3 linked regions of the Homo sapiens genome follow. The protein of the gene in region 2 interacts with the protein of the main gene of each other region in a biochemical or structural test. Each region holds a gene or a part of one and is shown on either strand. Other genes may lie near its edges.

Region 1 (7,037 bases), on a different chromosome or scaffold from region 2:
TGGATCTTTTCCTAGGTTTCAGATGAAGAGATCAGCAAAAATAGTCTAATAAACACTTTATGTCATGAAAAGTTATAAAGCAAGTAACTGGAAACTTAATGTCATTTAAGTATATTAAAATTTTTCCTACCTAGTTTCTTTAGGACTCAGAATATTCTGTTTCTTGAGATATTTTACCAAGAAACTGACTGCCATGTGTACCAACTGTGGATTACGAATTCTCTAAGAATTAGAATCCACACTTAACAGCAAAAGATTCAGAAGGCACTTAAAGGATTGTTCAATTTCTCAAGGTCATCACCGTAAACATTGCTTATTATTCTATCAGAGACACACACGTAGGTAAGAGTAATGAAGAGAATGCCAGACAACAGTCTGTTCTTCCATTTTTCCATTCAATAAGCATTTATTGAGTACTACTTTGTGTAGGCAAAAGCATTGTGGGGACTCAATCATTTAACTAAGCTTCTGTCCATAGAATTTACAATGCTTAATATTCCATCTTTCTAAAGAGTAAAAGGATTTGTCAGTATTCGTAGCCCTTTAAGCCACTAACAGAACCCAAGACTCCTAACACCCCCCTTTCGTTAGAAGCATAAATAAGCAATTATTTCACTTGGTAATTGGAATTCAAATATAAATAATAAGCAAATGGCAGCCTTTATATCTGCCCATTTGCTAATTTTTCTACCATCTTGCCATATCTGCTCTCAGCTACTTAAATATGGGTGAACGTAAAAGCCAGGCAAGCTAACATGAAGGAAATTATGCACATTCTTATTACAATGAATATCAACATCAAGACCTAGTGTTAAAGACAGTCCTAAGCAGTTATATCTCTGGATGATGAAAAGTCTTCAATATAAAGCAAAAGCCATAAGTATTCTGCCAACCAAAGTTCGCTAAGGGAAGCTAAATCAGTATCTATGAAAAAATCCCACACCAGGAATATCACCTTCATGAAGCTGACACCCAACATCAATATTTAAATTTACATATTGTTGCTTATACATTCATTAATATTAATACAAAGAACTTGAGTAAATTGATGTACTTTTTCACTCATAATTTTTCTATTACAGTTAAATATGAAAGGATCAAATTTTTGGTGATTGCCTTAAAGAATGCTGTGGAAATATATGCTTGGGCTCCTAAACCGTATCATAAATTCATGGCATTTAAGGTAAGCAGGGATGTGATTATCTAAAATGTGCTTTTTAAAAATTTTCCGTTTCTACCCATTAATAAAATAGTCCATATAGACCAATACCAATTTTCATATAGATAATAAACCTGTTTTAAAAGTGTAGGTACTCTAGGGTTTATTGTTTCAAAAGTAAAGACTGAATATTTGTAAATGCTATAAAATTAGATTAAAATTTGGGTATGCCCTCCTCCTTGAGATCTATGAATCATCATCCTCAAGAGGCATTTAGAATGGTTAGTAGGCATAGCATTGATTATGATCTTATGCAATGACATTTGTTATAAAGCCACCTAAACCAGGGTATTCCCTGATATTTTGTTTGAAAAAGGCAGACAAATGGCAGCACTGAATCTCAGAGTTAAACTGAGTCTCTTTTAATCCTCATAAATCTTTCTGAATGAAGTCCCTAAAACTCAGGTGATGCTTATATGTCCCCAGTGCTAACTTACAGAAATGACCTAGTTTCTCTGCATTCTTCTATTTTGATTGCCTTTTCATTTTTTTACCTTGTCTAAGTCTGTACCCACCATGGTTGGATTGGTCACTCATGAGATTTGCCAGGAGTGGGATGGGGATATGCTAGTCCTGTTGACCCCAGCTCATGAAGCTGACACCCGAATACCAGGAGGACCAGTACTTACAGGCACCCAGATGTGTTCAGAGCCGCATAACCTATCCATAGCCCAAGTGAACTTATCTTCTGTTTTCTCTCACTCTCTCTCTCTGATCTCTCTCTGTCTCTCTCTCTCTCAGCTTATGTCTGTCTACTTCTTTATGTCTCATTGGCTCTCACTTTTTCTCCCCACCTTTATGACTGTTATCTCCATTTGGCTCCTTATTATTTTCTGCCACATTCTCATGAAGGGCAAAACTGCCCTTGGAACACCATGTAGGCCCACTTCAGAGCTGAATCACTTCTATCTTGTTCCCTTAGGGCAGATGGCTTCTGATGTGCTCAAGAAAATAGATTCATTAATGGAAATGGGCTCCCCTCCATGACCTCACTTTTATGGAAAAAAATTGGAATGCATTAGGTTACTAATAACAAGGGATAACTCCTAAAAGCCAAAGTGGTACTCCTGTTCTGCCAAAATCTATCTCCACAAAAGCTTTTCAATCAACATCCCATTCCCATTCTTGCTCTGAAGTTATTGCCATTATTTTATGACCCAGAGACACATGAGAGAGTGCAAAATGTTCTTTCTGACAGACCCTATCCAGCCCAGAAAGAGGGAAGAGCAAAGGCAAAGACTTGAACAGGAAAGAGTGGAACTGGCAAGAGGCCAAGCCTTCCCATAGGACAAGGACAGGACGCTAGAGCTTCCCATGCTGTCAGAATGGTGTTAGCAAAAGATGAGAAGAGAAGGGTCTGAGAGGTAGCAGTGGCATTATAGTTAAGGCAATTGTAGTTTCACAAATGCTCTCCCAGATCTCAAGGCCCAAAGGTAGAGCGTGGTTAAAAAATAGCAAAGGAAAATGGCAGAGGAACACTTGACAGTTAGTTGGGGCTTGGGCTCTGGATTCAAACACAGAGAACTTTGACAAACTTGGCAAGATCTCTCTTTTTGCTTTCTAGTTAAACCCAAATAGTCAATGCAAGCCATCAATCTTGTGATGTTCCACTCCCACCTCTTTCTCTACCACCCAAACCCAAGTCTCAGATTCCAACATTAAGAGAAAGTGCCAATCTTATGCCTACTCATTCACTGAAGAAAAATCCAAACCAGAGCATGCCCATTAATACTAAACAGGCTGAGAAAACAGCCGGCCTTGGCTGTCCCTCCCAGGCTGTCTCTGAAAGGGTAGTTGCTGTGGATGGGCCTGGTTGCCACATGGGAAAGAGGGGGGCCAGAGAGGTGACTGGGCCTTCTTCAGAGGACAAAGGCCAGAAATAAACAGGAAAAAACAGCAATACCCAGGCACCAGGTTTTTAATATACATTACCACTATCAAAATTTACACCTGTGCACCAACTTAAACTTCACTGCCCCGAAGGACAAAGGGTAGAGAAAGGGGCACAAATGGATGCTAGACCCTTCCTCCTAGGGCCAGAATATCAACAGACCTAAAACTGAAAGAGAAATTTTCTAGTTTTTCACTTTAATAAAGTTAGAAGTTAACTTCCTCTAGACAGTGGCTAAAGGAAAAAAATTAAGATGCCTCTTTGAGTGATGCGGATACTAATGGGGTGATTTTTAAAGTCTTTTGCAGATCTCCAGCACAAGCCTCTGCTAGTTGATCTCACGGTAGAAGAAGGTCAAAGATTAAAGGTTATTTTTGGTTCACACACTGGTTTCCATGTAATTGATGTTGATTCAGGAAACTCTTATGATATCTACATACCATCTCATGTAAGTACTCAGAAGTAGACTTTCAAGGGCTCTCTGTACAACAGCCTGCATGTAGAAAGAGATTTGTTTTGCATAGTTTTAGTAGAAGTCATGCACACTTTACTAACCAGCAAATGGACTTTCGTTCTTCATTAAGTATACTGCTTTTAATAACTAAAATATATAAATTTAACTAATTTTTATGACTTCCTAAAATTGGGGAATACATAATAGAAATCATTTGGCATTTACATGTTGTCTCTTTGGACTTTAGATTAAAATGAATATGACATATTTCTTTCAAGGGCATGAATTATATTCGGTAGACAAGTTTCCACATTCAGTTTTTGAAGGGAAATTCGTTCATTTTATGTTAGAGAAAGCCAATGGTCAGGTACTAATTTATTGGAGAAAATTCTTTTTTTGCTATTTTTAGTTCCTCTCTTCAGCTTGAGGGCAGTGTGGTACACTGGAGTCAGACACAGTGGCTCTAGCATGTATTAGCTTTGCAGTAATGGACACAGTAGGCAGCCTCTCCAATCCTCAGCTTTCGCATCTGTAAAATATGGATAAAAAGACTTATCCCATAGGATTATCATTAGTATTAAATGAGGTAATGGATCTAAAGCAGTTGGTACAGGGCCCTGCAAATTGTAGATCTTCTTATTAGCCCTAAAATATTCATATTACTATCCTGACATATTGCTTGAAACATAACTGTTAAAGGGAAATGCTGCACATGGATTCACTTATTAGGATTAAGTGTAGTGTAAAGTGTGTGTCCTGTGTGTAATCCCAAGACTAACACACAGGAGAAACTATTTATCAGGAATGTTTGAAGCTACCGCTGACTGGTATTTTGAGAGTTTTAAGACTTTATTCTAATGAAACGCAATAACTAAAAGAAGTTGTTTCAGTATATTACATACACACACACGACTGCCATTCATTGCTGCATTATTACCACTTTTAACTCATGTGGATGTGGGTGAACACAAGGACTCACAGCTCACATTCCTGGTGAGGCAGCTAAGGTGTAACTATGATAATCCTCAACTCTCTTAGTCCAATCTGTCAAGCACATGTTGGGCTGCCATGGCATTCTCAACTAGGGGATCACAACAACATCACATTTCCTTTCCTAGAACAAATTAATATACACTTATTTCAATAGTGATTTTTTTTTTTTTTTTTTTGGATACGGAGTCTCGCTCTGTCACCCAAGCTGGAGTACAGTGGCGTGATCTCGGCTCACTGCAAGCTCCGCCTCTCCTGGGTTCACACCATTCTCCTGCCTCAGCCTCCCGAGTAGCTGGGACTACAGGTGCCCACCATCATGCCCGGCTAATTTTTTGTATTTTTAGTAGAGACGGGGTTTCATCGTGTTAGCCAGGATGGTCTCGATCTCCTGACGTCGTGATCCGCCCGCCTCGGCCTCCCAAAGTGCTGGGATTACAGGCATGAGCCACTGTGTGCGGCAATAATGATTTTTTTTAATGAGTGGTCATTCTAAATATTTTTTCTAACCAAGCCATGAATTATTCTGGCATTTAGACACCCGGATAAACAATCCTATATATATATTTTTTTTTCACAGATTATTTTGGTAGTTCATTTTGACCCCACTTAAGCTATCTCCATTAGATTCAGCTGGCTTACATTCTCCTCATCTTCTTTTGGAAGTGGTTGTGCTAATAGAAAACACATTAATTTCAACGTCAGCAAGATATACACAAATCCCAACTCTACCAACAAATACTAGCACAACTTTGGTTAAGACACAAAGCCCTTCTGAGATGCAGTTTCCTCATCTGTAAACAAAGCTATCTACCTTGGGGAGCTATTGTAGGTACTAGAAATTATATATGTAAAGGGCCCCATGACTGGCACATAGTAGGTGTGCCATAGATTTACATGCTCTTTTTAGGAACAGGTAAATTGAATTTTTAATCTAGTGACTAAGTTTGATTTACCAGGGTATTTTACAAGTCAGTGGTTAAATTAAAGCAAATTTCAGTCTTTAGGGTGACAATGAAAATAAACAAAAACCTCTTTTTTGCAGTTGTTAGAGATGAATAGTCAAGGTGTTTTATTTTTTAAAAGAATAATGCTTGGCTTTTCTTTGTCTTCTAGATTCAGGGCAATATCACTCCTCATGCTATTGTCATCTTGCCTAAAACAGATGGAATGGAAATGCTTGTTTGCTATGAGGATGAGGGGGTGTATGTAAACACCTATGGCCGGATAACTAAGGATGTGGTGCTCCAATGGGGAGAAATGCCCACGTCTGTGGGTAGGTTAACCATTCCTTATCTCCTTCAGCAGTTACACCCCCCAAATGAAACGAAAATCAAGAAATGTGAAACAACCATTTGATTCCACAAAAAAAAAAAAAAAAAAATCTGTGAATAACTCTTGTAAGACTTGCTTTGTCCATTTATCTCAAGTCGTTTGTCATTTTTGTGGTTAAGATGTGAACAGATGCTGTGAGTTATTGCCCATCTAATGTTTTTAATGCAGTTTTGGAAATTCCTTTTGACAGCCTACATTCATTCCAATCAGATAATGGGCTGGGGCGAGAAAGCTATTGAGATCCGGTCAGTGGAAACAGGACATTTGGATGGAGTATTTATGCATAAGCGAGCTCAAAGGTTAAAGTTTCTATGTGAAAGAAATGATAAGGTAAATCCGTTTCAACATTTGCATTAGTGTTTGCATTTTAAGAGACCACCAGGTACCTGTGAAACCTTCATTTTCCTTTATACTGATTTGAATCACATCTGTGTTAAACAATCAATATTATCTTGAAATGGCATTATTTGGTTTGATCCATGTGAGCACTCAATATATTATTCACATGTCAAAAACTACATAAAAACATTTAGAAATTTCTTGTAAACCTCTTAGAAACCTTTGTGGCCTAAAGGCCTTTTGATGACTCAGCAGACACCCCAAATTCTCCTAAGCACTTAGAGCAGTTGGCCCATCATTAATCATCTCACAGTGGGTCAACTTTATACTTCCACTTTTAGACTTTTCACAAAGTCACTTTCAAGACCTAACCAATCACCTTATATTCACCTTTAAATCCAAAACATTTGACGTTTAGAAATATAAGCTTTTTAAAAATGTCACCCATTCCTTAAGGAATGCACAATCACAAACTCAACTAGTGCCATGTCTTGTGTCATTCCAGCCATGTTTCTTCTGAAATGTCATAGGTGAACTGTTTTCCAGTGAAATTGGCTGTGTCCGTCTGGCATGATCAGTGACCTCAGAGGGGTATTCTGCAGCAGTACTGCTTCTCCCTTACCCTCCCTGTAGAGTAACCCCGAGGTTTTAGTAGCTAAGCCATACTGCATTTGTGAATTCATCCTTTGTGGCTGTGGCCAACATAGAAATGCTGTCCCCAAAGCCACAGACATAAACGCCTATAGAAAAACAGTATGATGGGTTGAATTTTTGTATATCCCTTTGTCCACCCCAGTTCCCCAAAGGTC
Region 2 (3,477 bases):
CCTCGACATCCAGGCAGAGGCTGGTGTAGGGGCTGTCACGCTGCGCTTGTGCCTCTGTTCTGGTCTTCCTGATTTTCTGCTTGACATCCTTCCCTCTTCCTGCGTTTTCCTTCAGGTCCAACCCAGATCAACCAAGTGGTGAGTCATCCAAACCAGCCTCTCACCATCACCGCCCACGACGACAGGGGCATCCGCTTCCTGGACAATCGGACAGGTGAGGCCTAGCCCCTTGTGCTCGTAGTGGGTGGGGAGGGCCAGAGGCAGGCAGCAGAGATGCTTGCGTCCCTGTGGGAGGCTCTGGGAGTCTCTCGTCCAGTCCTTTCACTCTCTCAGGCGAGGCCCAGAGTGGGAGGGGAACCTGCCACCCGCCCTTCTCGCCTCAGGTAAGCCGGTGCACTCCATGGTTGCACACCTGGACGCAGTCACCTGCCTAGCCGTGGACCCCAACGGCGCATTCCTGATGTCAGGAAGTAAGTTGAGCACACTAGTCCCACCAGGGTTGGGGAGAAGGGGAGGAAGAGGCCTGGGCACTGGCTCCAGGCAAGTGCTCAGGGGGCCCCGGGGGCCAGGGCTGGGGGAGGCTGGTCTGGGCGGGAATGACCGTGGTGACCATAGGGGGCAGCACAGTCCGCTGGGGCCCTCCTCTGGGTCACTGGAGCTGCATCGTCTCATTCGGCCTCTAAGCAGCCTGTGCGGTTGGTACTTTGATCCCCAGTTTACAGATGTGGGCCCTGATGCCCAGACGCTTTGTAACTTGGCCATTGAAGCTCTGTAACATCAGTCCAGGTCTACCTGGGGGTACCCGTGGGACTTCTGTGCTCCCACCCTGTTGTCTCTGGATAAGGGCATTGAGGCCAGCAACGTGGCTGTGCTTAGAAGGGATGGAGTGTGACGTGGGTGGGTGGAGAAGGAGACTGGAGGTCGCTGTGGGGGTGAAGGGTGAGGCCTGCAGTGAGTGCAGCAGTGAGTGTGTGTGCACAGAGGCGCAGGCCGTGGTGTTGGAGGCTGTGGCTGGGCTCTGCCTCCGGGCCTGTGCTGGCAGCCTCTGGTGGGTGAGGGGCTGGTCAGTGAGCTCCAGCCCAGTGCCCAGACAGGGCTCTATTCTGGGGGCCACTAGACAGTGGAGGGAGCTGAGCCTTTGCCCTGCCTGATCCTCTTGACCCTAAATTAAACTTCTCCTCGCCAGGGCCCTGCCCAGCCTGCCGTCCTCTCCCCTCTTCTCCCCAAGTCCCTGCTAAGGCTCTTGTGGCCACCCCCACCTCCTGCCTCAGGACCTTTCCCGCCTGTCCTTCTGCCTGGAAGGCTCCCTGCATTCCTCCTGGGGCCATTCTGTCCTCACACTGACCGGCTGGGTTGCTTTCTTCTTTCTCTTCCTGTTGCCCAGCTGCAGCGTCAGTGCTGCGGGGCAGGGAGAGTTGCCTGTTTTGTTCACTGCCCCTGCCGCCCTGGGGCTCAGTGTGCAGTAGCTGCTCAAGAAATGCTGGGGGATGAGATGGACTGTGGACAGGAGGGGACCAGGGTTCTCCTTTGGGCGGGCCACAGGAGGTGATGAGCAGAGGGTGAGAGAGGAGAGTTGAGCCCCACTTCCCCTGAGGCCTTTGGACAAGGCCAGGTGAGGGGTTCCAGGGCTGCGTCTGAGCGAGGAGCCCAGTGACCACCCCTTCTGTCCCCGACACATGTGCAGGCCATGACTGCTCCCTGCGTCTCTGGAGCCTGGACAACAAAACGTGCGTGCAGGAGATCACGGCCCACCGCAAGAAGCACGAGGAGGCCATCCACGCTGTTGCCTGCCACCCCAGCAAGGCCCTCATTGCCAGTGCTGGCGCTGATGCCCTGGCCAAGGTCTTCGTATGATGCCCACCTGGCCCTGCCCTGGCCGCCACGCTGGCTGGGGTGTAGGGCCGGGCAGGTGGGGCTGAGGTGAGGGCAGAAACCCCGCATTCTGAGTCTCTGCACGCCCATGCCTAGTACTGCCAGGTGTGCTGAGCCCCGCAGTCCAGTCAGGGGCGTCCTGTGAGAATCACTGGGGGAGCCCTGGGCATGCAGGGGAGGGGTTGAGGCCTTAGAGGCGCCCTAGAGGCGGCGGCTCAGTCTCCCCTCCCTTCTCTTTCCCGCAGGGGACTCCCAGCCTCGCTGGAGGTGCAGAGGCCTGGCCTCTGTCTGTTTGCCATGGAGCCTGGTGGTGCTAACGGCCCTTTCCCCAGGAATCCCTCCCCAACGGCTGCCTTCCCCAAGCATCCAGCCTGGGGATGGGCCCCTTTCAGGAATCACCCCCGAGGATGGCCTCGGGGTTTCCCCCTGTGCCCTGACAGCCGCTCCTGGTATCAGAGCTGCTTTCCAGAGGGCAGCACAGCCAGGGCCGGGTGTCTTTAGGGATCAGTTTTTCCAAGACTCCAGAAGGTGCCAGGTTCTCCCCTTGAGCTCCTGCTCCCCCATCCCCCATCCTCCCAGACCTGGGCAGGAGCTGTGCTGGGAGAAAGGGTGGCAGCCGGGAGCCTCAGAGCTGAGCCCCGGCCTGGCTGCCCCTCCCCTCCGGCCCTCTCCACTGCTTTCCAGACACTAACCAAGGCTTCCAGGCCAGGGATTGCCCAACACTCCTAGGGCAGCCCTCCCAGCGCCCCATGGGGTCGCCCATGGGTAGAGACGGCTTTCTTGTGCCCCTCCCTGGGGCATGGAGGGTGGAGTGGGCCTCGGGTCCCCCTGAACTCCCTGTATATCTGTATAAATAACGGGATTTTCATGGCGCCGCCCCACCCGCATTATCACTGTGTGATGGTCTCAGTCAGTCTCCTCCCTGTCTCCACTCTTTCCCTCTATTTATTTCACTCTCTTGTTTGGTTCTACCCTGCACCCTCGGTCCCCTTCCAGGTTCCTGTTTATAAGCCCCAACCCCTCTGTCCCCATCTTGTATGTGAAAACTTGTCTCAATAAACCCTTTGGAGTAAGATGGGTGACGGTGCCATCTGTTGAGGGCACTGGGGACTTTGGGGGAGGAGTGACCGGCTCTGCCTGGGTTGGGTGGAGTTTGGAGAGAGGGGATATGATGGGTTGGGGTTTTGTGGTAGGGCAGCAGGGGCCGGAGACGGGCCCAGAGCTTGGGTGGGGTGTGGGTGGAGAGAAGTGGAGGCACTGGACCGAATCTCCTTGTGCCCTTTCTGTCCCTAAGTGCTCCCTCCCCAGGGGTAGAGCCCTGGGGAGCAGATACTATGATGACAGTCCAGCTGAAGCCTCAGCCCCGCCTGGGATGTGTGAGGGTGGTGGCGAGGCCAAAGGGCTGGTGCCCAGAGGACGTAAACCCCCTTCCTGTTCCCATCCCAGGCCCACAAGGAGCAGGGAGGGAAAAGGCTGCACCTGCCAGTGGAGGATGATGGCTTTGGGGCGCAGGCTCCTCCATGCTGGGAGGAGGTGCCGCAGGTGCCCGAGCCCTCGTGGCTCATGTCCTGATGCGTCCCTCCTTTCCCTTCTCAGTGGTCCACG
Region 3 (7,037 bases), 8.1 Mb from region 2:
ATGTGGACAAGGCCCCCAAGGCTCATACCTGTCACCCTTCAGGAAGCAACTGTCAGAGTCGTCTGACGATGACTATGACGACGTGGACATGTAAGTGAGGCCCTGCCTGCAGCTCCACAGGCCCCACCTCAGCCCCCACCTTCCTACAATCCCCTGATGTGGCCTTTCCTCCACTCCTGACCCCGCTGCACCCCTGCCTTTCTTCTAGCCCCGAGCCCTGAGCCCTGATTAGACCCTCAATGCAGCCCCTCTGCCCAGCTACCTAGGCCCTGTTCCCTAACCCCACCTCCCTTAACCCTTCACCTCCAACCCCTGACCCCCAACCTGATCCCAGCTCCAGCTCCCACTTTCCTTCTTTCCTTCCACCTTCTTCTTTTTTTTTTTTTTTTTTTTTGAGATGGAGTCTCACTCTGTGGCCCAGGCTGGAGTGCAGTGACGTAGTCTCAGCTCACTACAACCTCGGCTCCCCGGGTTCAAGCGATTCTCCTGTCTCAGCCTCCTGAGTAGCTGGGATTACAGGCACCTGCCACCATGCCCAGCTAATTTTTTGTATTTTTAGTAGAGATGGGGTTTCACCATGTTGGCCAGGCTGGTTTCAAACTCCTGACCTCATGATCCGCCCATCTCAGCCTCCCAAAGTGCTGCGATTACAGGTGTGAGCCACTGCACTTGGCCTCCTTCCATCTTCTTATACAATCTTTTGACTTGACCCTCAGCGTCAGCCCCCCACCTGCTCTCCACCCCAGAGCTGACCCCAGTTCCTTCTAGAATGTGCTGCTGCTCCAATCTCTGACTTGACCCCACCTATCCTCCATGACCCTGCACCCTCAGCCACATCCCAGTCTCAAACTCCTCCCGAATGTCACTCTCACCCCAGACCCACCCTCCAGCCTTCAGCCCCAGCCCTCAGCTTTTCCTATCTTTTTGCCCGCCCTCAGGCTGAACCTTGGCACCTGGAAATCTCCCAAAGACCAGATACTGAGCCCCAGATCCAGACCCAACAGTCAGCCCAGGCCCCCATACTCCCCAGCCCACAGGCCGAGTCAGGCTCCATCCAGGTGCGCGCACTCACTTCACCCATCACGTGCGACAGCCTGTGTGTGGCGCCAGCACAGGGAGAGCAGGGCCACGGCGCTGATGTCACCTGTGTTACTAGGTGGTGTAAAGGTGCAAAGCCGTGGTGCACTGTCAGCACTCCACCTCCAAGAGTTGCTGTTACTGTTATTAGTCTTTTTTTTGGAAACAGGCTAATCATTTTTTTGTAGGATGGGGTCTTGCCATGTTGTCCAGGCTGGTCTCAAACTCATGATTTGTTTTGGCACCAAGGCTAAGTGCAGGAGTGCAATGATGGCTTACTGCAGCCTCAACCTCCCAGGCTCAAGCAATCCTCCCACCTCAGCCTCCTGAGTAGCTGCGGTCACAGGCGCACCTGCCACGCCTGGCTAATTTTTAATTTTTTTCTGGAGACAAGGTCTTGCTATGCTGCCCAGGCTAGTCTCGAATTCCTGGGCTCAAGCCATCCTGCCCTGGCCTCCCAAAGCACTGCGATTACAGGCATGAGCCACTATGTCCAGCCTGGCTATTAATCCTTTAATCCTCTGCTCCAGGCAGAACCAGTCATCCCTTAATCCTCCTCACCTCAGACCCCAGTCCCGGGCCTCCAGCCCAGAACCATGCCATCTTCCCCGAGTCCTTGTTCCCCAGCCCCCCAGCTATTTAACCCATCTTTGTGTTTCAGCCCCACCCCTGCAGAGGACACACCTCCTCCACTTCCCCCCAAGGTAAGGCCCTGGGCCAGAGCTGGGAGGCTGGGGCCTCAGGGCCACTGGGGGCCAGGAGGCCAGGTCCTTAGATGCTGGGATACTGGGCTCTCCAGGGCAGGGAATTGGGGAGACCAGGATGATGGCTACATTGGGATCTGGAAGTGGCATCCCTCAACCTCAGGGTCGGATTCAAAATATTTAGCCTCTTAGACACTGGTCAGTAGCTGGTCCTAGGAAGCCCCTGCTATATATCCAGCATTAACCCATTAGTTTCTGAAGTGTGTTGATGTCCAGGCTGGGGATGTCAGGGGAAGGCTGGAGGGGGCACAAGATGTTGTCGGGGGGGTGGGTCAGAGCCACAGCTGTTAGTTCTGGTGGAGGCAGGGACTTGAGTTGCAAAAGGGTGCCCTCTCTGAGATCATCTGATGTATTTCCCCACGCTCCATTCCCGTCTCCAAAGCCCAAGTTCCGTTCTCCATCAGACGAGGGTCCTGGGAGCATGGGGGATGATGGGCAGCTGAGCCCGGGGGTGCTGGTCCGGTGTGCCAGTGGGCCCCCACCAAACAGCCCCCGTCCTGGGCCTCCCCCATCCACCAGCAGCCCCCACCTCACCGCCCATTCAGGTAATGGGACAGGCTAGGGTGGAGGGCGGGAGGGTTGGGGGTTCTTGGGGGCTGATTTTCTCCTAACCCCTCTCAGAACCCTCACTCTGGAACCCACCCTCCCGGGAGCTTGACAAGCCCCCACTTCTGCCCCCCAAGAAGGAAAAGATGAAGAGAAAGGTGAGGTTCAGCTCTGCTGAGGACTTACACCTCTGGACGGGGCTGGGGATGCCTGGTGGGGTGGGGAGGGGGTGGCAGGACTGACAGTAACAACAGGTGACATTTGTTGAGCGCTTCTCTGTGCCCTACACTTATCTCCTATCATTACATGGCATAAAGCTTCACAGAGTGAAGAAGATATCACAGAGATGTTATCCCCCATTTCACAAATGGGGAAATTGAAGCACAGAGAGGGTAAGTGGCTTACCCAAGGTCATATAAATACCTTTGAGGAGGCAGGCTGAGGCAGGATTGTTGTTTCTGCTTTTTTTTTTTTTTTTTTAAAGACGGAGTTTTGCTTGTTGCCCAGGCTAGAGTACAGTGGCGCGATCTTAGCTCACTACAACCTCCGCCTCCCTAGTTCAAGTGATTCTCCTGCCTCAGCCTCCGGAGTAGCTGAGATTACAGGCAATGCAGCACCATGCCCGGCTAATTTTGTATTTTTAGTAGAGGTGGGGTTTCACCATGTTGGTTAGGCTCGTCTTGAACTCCTGACCTCAGGTGATCCACCTGCCTCGGCCTCCCAAAGTGCTGGGATTACAGGCATGAGCCACCGCGTCTGGCATGCTTTTTTTTTTTTGAGACAGAGTCTCACTGTGTCACCCAGGCTGGAGTGCAGTGGCGCGATCTCGGCTCACTGCAAGCTCCGCCTCCCAGGTTCACACCATTCTCCTGCCTCAGCCTCCCGAGTAGCTGGGACTACAGGTGCCCGCCACCAGGCCCGGCTAATTTTTTGTATTTTTAGTAGAGACGGGGTTTCACCGTGTTAGCCAGGATGGTCTCGATCTCCTGACCTTGTGATCTGCCCGCCTCGGCCTCCCAAAGTGCTGGGATTACAGTCATGAGCCACCGCGCCCAGCTACTAAAAATTTAAAAAATTAGCTGGGCGTGGTGGCACACACCTATGGTCCCAGCTACTTGGGAAGCTGAGGTGGGAGGATTGCTTGAGTCCAGAAGTTAGAGTCTTTTGACAAGATCCATCAAAACCTCCATGAGTCACTACCACATATGCAGTTGCCCAAAGAGCCAAGATCTCAAGAAATTTTACCTCTCATAAATGGAGATGTACAAAAAGAACATCTCTTTATTCAGGAAGTTTCAGTGTTTTTACGTACATGCATAATGCCTACACACGTAGTCAGTGTTGTGATAATGCACCTTTGTGGCATCAAATTTGCCAACAAATGCATAAAATGAATTAGAACTCTCTAAAGTCTTTTTTTTTTTTTTTTTTTTTTTTTGAGATAGTATCTCGCTCTGTCGCCCAGGCTGCTGGAGTGCAGTGGCGCGATCATGGCTCACTGCAGCCTTGACCTCGGAGACTCAAGCAATCCATGCACCTCACCCTCCCTAGTAGCGCTTGGCTAATTTTTTTTTTTTTTTTCTGAGATGGAGTCTCACTCTGTCGCCCAGGCTGGAGTGCAGTGGTGCTATCTTGGCTCACTGCAACCTCTGCCTCCCCAGTCTAAGTGATCCTCCTGCCTCAGCCTCCTAAGTAGCCATGACTACAGGCGCCCACCACCACGCCCAGCTAATTTTTGTATTTTTAGTAGAGACGGAGTTTTGCCATGTTGGCCAGGCTGGTCTCAAACTCCTGACCTCAAGTTATCTGCCAGCCTCGGCCTCCCAAAGTGCTGGCATTACAGGCGTGAGCCACCGCGCCCGGCCCAGCTTGGCTAATTTTTAAAAAAATGTTTTATAGAGGCAGGGTCTCACTATGTTGCCCAAGCTGGTCCTGAACTCCTGGGCTTAAGTGATCCTCCCACCTCGGCCTCCCAAACTGGTGGGATTACAGCCGTGCCTGGTTGGCTACCGGCTAAAAGTATGTATAATTTATACCTCCAGCACTGGAAATGATTCAAAGATGAAATGCATAGCATAATTAATCATACATATATACATATACATATATACACACACATATACATGTATATGTGTGTATATATGTATACGTGTATATATATGTATATGCATATATATGTACATGTGTATATATGTATATGTGTGTATATATGTATATGTGTATATATGTATATGCGTATATATGTACATGTGTATATATGTATACATGTATGTGTGTGTGTATATGTATGTGTATATATGTATATGCGTATATATGTACATGTGTATATATATGTGTATATGTATATGTGTATATATGTATGTGTATATATGTATATGCGTATATATGTACATGTGTATATATGTATACATGTATATGTGTGTATATATGTATATGCGTATATATGTACATGTGTATATATGTACATGTGTATATATGTACATGTGTATATATGTATATGTGTATATGTATATGCGTATATATGTACATGTGTATATATGTATACATGTATATGTGTGTATATATGTATATGTATATATGTATATGCGTATATATGTGCATGTGTATATGTGTGTATATATGTATGTGTATATATGTATATGCGTATATGTGTACATGTGTGTATATATGTACATGTGTATATAAGTATATATGTACATGTGTATATATGTATATGTGTATATATGTATATGCGTATATATGTACATGTGTATATATGTATATATGTATGTGTGTATATATGTATATGTGTATATATGTATATGCGTATATATGTACATGTGTATATATGTATACATGTATATGTGTGTATATATGTATACATGTATATGTGTGTATATATGTATATGCGTATATATGTACATGTGTATATATGTATATATGTATAGGTGTGTATATATATGTATATGTGTATATATATGTATATGCGTATATATGTACATGTGTATATATATGTATATATGTATATGTGTGTATATATATGTATATGTGTATATATGTATATGCGTATATATGTACACGTGTATATATGTATATATGTATATGTGTGTATATATGTATATGTGTGTATATATGTATGTGTGTGTGTATATATATGTGTGTGTGTGTGTGTGTGTCTATATATATATGTATATGTGTATATATATATATGCTGGCCAGGCACAGTGGCTCATGCCTGTAATCCCAGCACTTTGGGAGACCAAGGCAGACGCATCACCTGAGGTCAGGAGTTCGAGACCAGCCTGGCCAACATGGCGAAACCCTGTCTCTACTAAAATACAAAAATTAGCCAGGCGTGGTGTTGTGTGCCAGTAATCCCAGCTATTCAGGAGGCTGAGGCAGAAGAATTGCTTGAGCCCAGGAGGTGGAGGTTGCAGTGAGCTGAGATTGCATCACTGCACTCCAGCCTGGGCAACAGAGTGAGACTCCATCTCCAAAAACAAAACTGACAGCTGGGAGTGGTGCCTCACGCCTGTAATCTCAGCACTTTGGGAGGCTGAGGCAGGTGAATCACATGAGGCCAAGAGTTCAAGACCAGCCTGGGCAACATGGCAAAACTCCATCTCTACTAAAAATACAAAAATTAGCTGGGTGTGGTGGCACACGCCTTTGGTCCCAGCTACTCAGAAGGCTTAGGCATGAGAATCAGTTGAACTTGGGAAGCAGAGGTTGTAGTGAGCTGAGATCATGTCATTGCATTCCAGCCTGGGCAACCGAGTGAGACTCTGTCTTAAAAAAAACAAATGCTGATGATTTAGGATAGTGGAGGAAAAACTAAAAAAAGAAATATATAACAACAACAAAAAAAAACAAAAACAAACTGAAAAGAAAACTCAATGTATGAAAAAGTGTATTACAGGGATAGATTATGGGAAATTGCACCAAGGTAAGAGGCAGGATTTGAACCTTGGCACTCTCGCTCCAAAGTCGTAACCACTGCCCCTTCCTGTTCCCTGCTCTCTTTGCCGGATCTGCTGCCTGGCCCCGCGGCGACCTGCCCAGGGATGTGCCCTTCTCGTAAAGTTGTTCAATGGCTGCCCCCTCCGGATCCACAGCACGGCCGCCTGGACACATCCCTCCACCAAGGGTGGGCATTCTGGAGGGTCAAGGAGATCCTGTAGGGAATGGGAGAGCAAAAGTAGGGGTGGGGAGAAGCCTAAGGAAGGCACAAAGGCAGGGACGGGGAGGAGCTTAATGGAGTTGGGGTGTGGCCAGGCTGAAACAGGGGCGGAGCTTGTCCTTACACTCAGGATTTGGTGATCAAAGATGCATAGAGGGCAGCCAGGTGTGGTGGCTCACACCTGTAATCCCAGCACTTTGGGAGGCTGAGGCGGGTGAATCATTTGAGGTCAGGAGTTCAAGACCAGCCTGGCCAACATGGTGAAACCCCGTCTCTACTAAAAATACAAAAGAAGCTAGGTAGGCCGGGCATGGTGGCTCACGCCTGTAATCCCAGCACTTTGGGAGGCGGAGGCGGGCGGATCATTTGAGGTCAGGAGTTTGAGACCAGCCTGGCCAACGTGGTAAAACCTCGTCTCTACTAAAAACACAAAAATTAGCCAGGCGTGGTAGCACGTGCCTATAATCCCAGCTACTCAGGAGGCTGAGGCA

The links. Proteins that work in one complex are often made in the same cells at the same time.
Region 1: the proteins of STRN4 (region 2) and TNIK form a complex in vitro, tested with the Homo sapiens proteins (one study listed by BioGRID).
Region 3: the proteins of STRN4 (region 2) and MAP4K1 form a complex in vitro, tested with the Homo sapiens proteins (one study listed by BioGRID).

Annotation. Positions count from the first base shown.
Region 1 is NC_000003.12:171,065,369-171,072,405, reverse strand, and holds part of TNIK (TRAF2 and NCK-interacting protein kinase), read left to right. Parts: intron 1-1,082; coding exon 1,083-1,183; intron 1,184-3,408; coding exon 3,409-3,558; intron 3,559-5,670; coding exon 5,671-5,830; intron 5,831-6,079; coding exon 6,080-6,219; intron 6,220-7,037. UniProt on the Homo sapiens protein: Serine/threonine kinase that acts as an essential activator of the Wnt signaling pathway. Recruited to promoters of Wnt target genes and required to activate their expression. May act by phosphorylating TCF4/TCF7L2.
Region 2 is NC_000019.10:46,718,979-46,722,455, reverse strand, and holds the end of STRN4 (striatin-4), read left to right. Parts: intron 1-115; coding exon 116-214; intron 215-383; coding exon 384-470; intron 471-1,684; coding exon 1,685-1,854; 3' UTR 1,855-1,920; intron 1,921-2,117; 3' UTR 2,118-2,945; downstream 2,946-3,477. Other genes in the region: uncharacterized protein LOC107987269, read left to right, coding at 3,393-3,477. UniProt on the Homo sapiens protein: Calmodulin-binding scaffolding protein which is the center of the striatin-interacting phosphatase and kinase (STRIPAK) complexes.
Region 3 is NC_000019.10:38,600,917-38,607,953, reverse strand, and holds part of MAP4K1 (mitogen-activated protein kinase kinase kinase kinase 1), read left to right. Parts: intron 1-42; coding exon 43-90; intron 91-938; coding exon of another isoform or gene 939-1,058; intron 1,059-1,738; coding exon 1,739-1,781; intron 1,782-2,223; coding exon 2,224-2,386; intron 2,387-2,462; coding exon 2,463-2,545; intron 2,546-6,259; exon of another isoform or gene 6,260-6,428; coding exon 6,429-6,513; exon of another isoform or gene 6,514-6,541; intron 6,542-7,037. UniProt on the Homo sapiens protein: Serine/threonine-protein kinase, which plays a role in the response to environmental stress. Appears to act upstream of the JUN N-terminal pathway.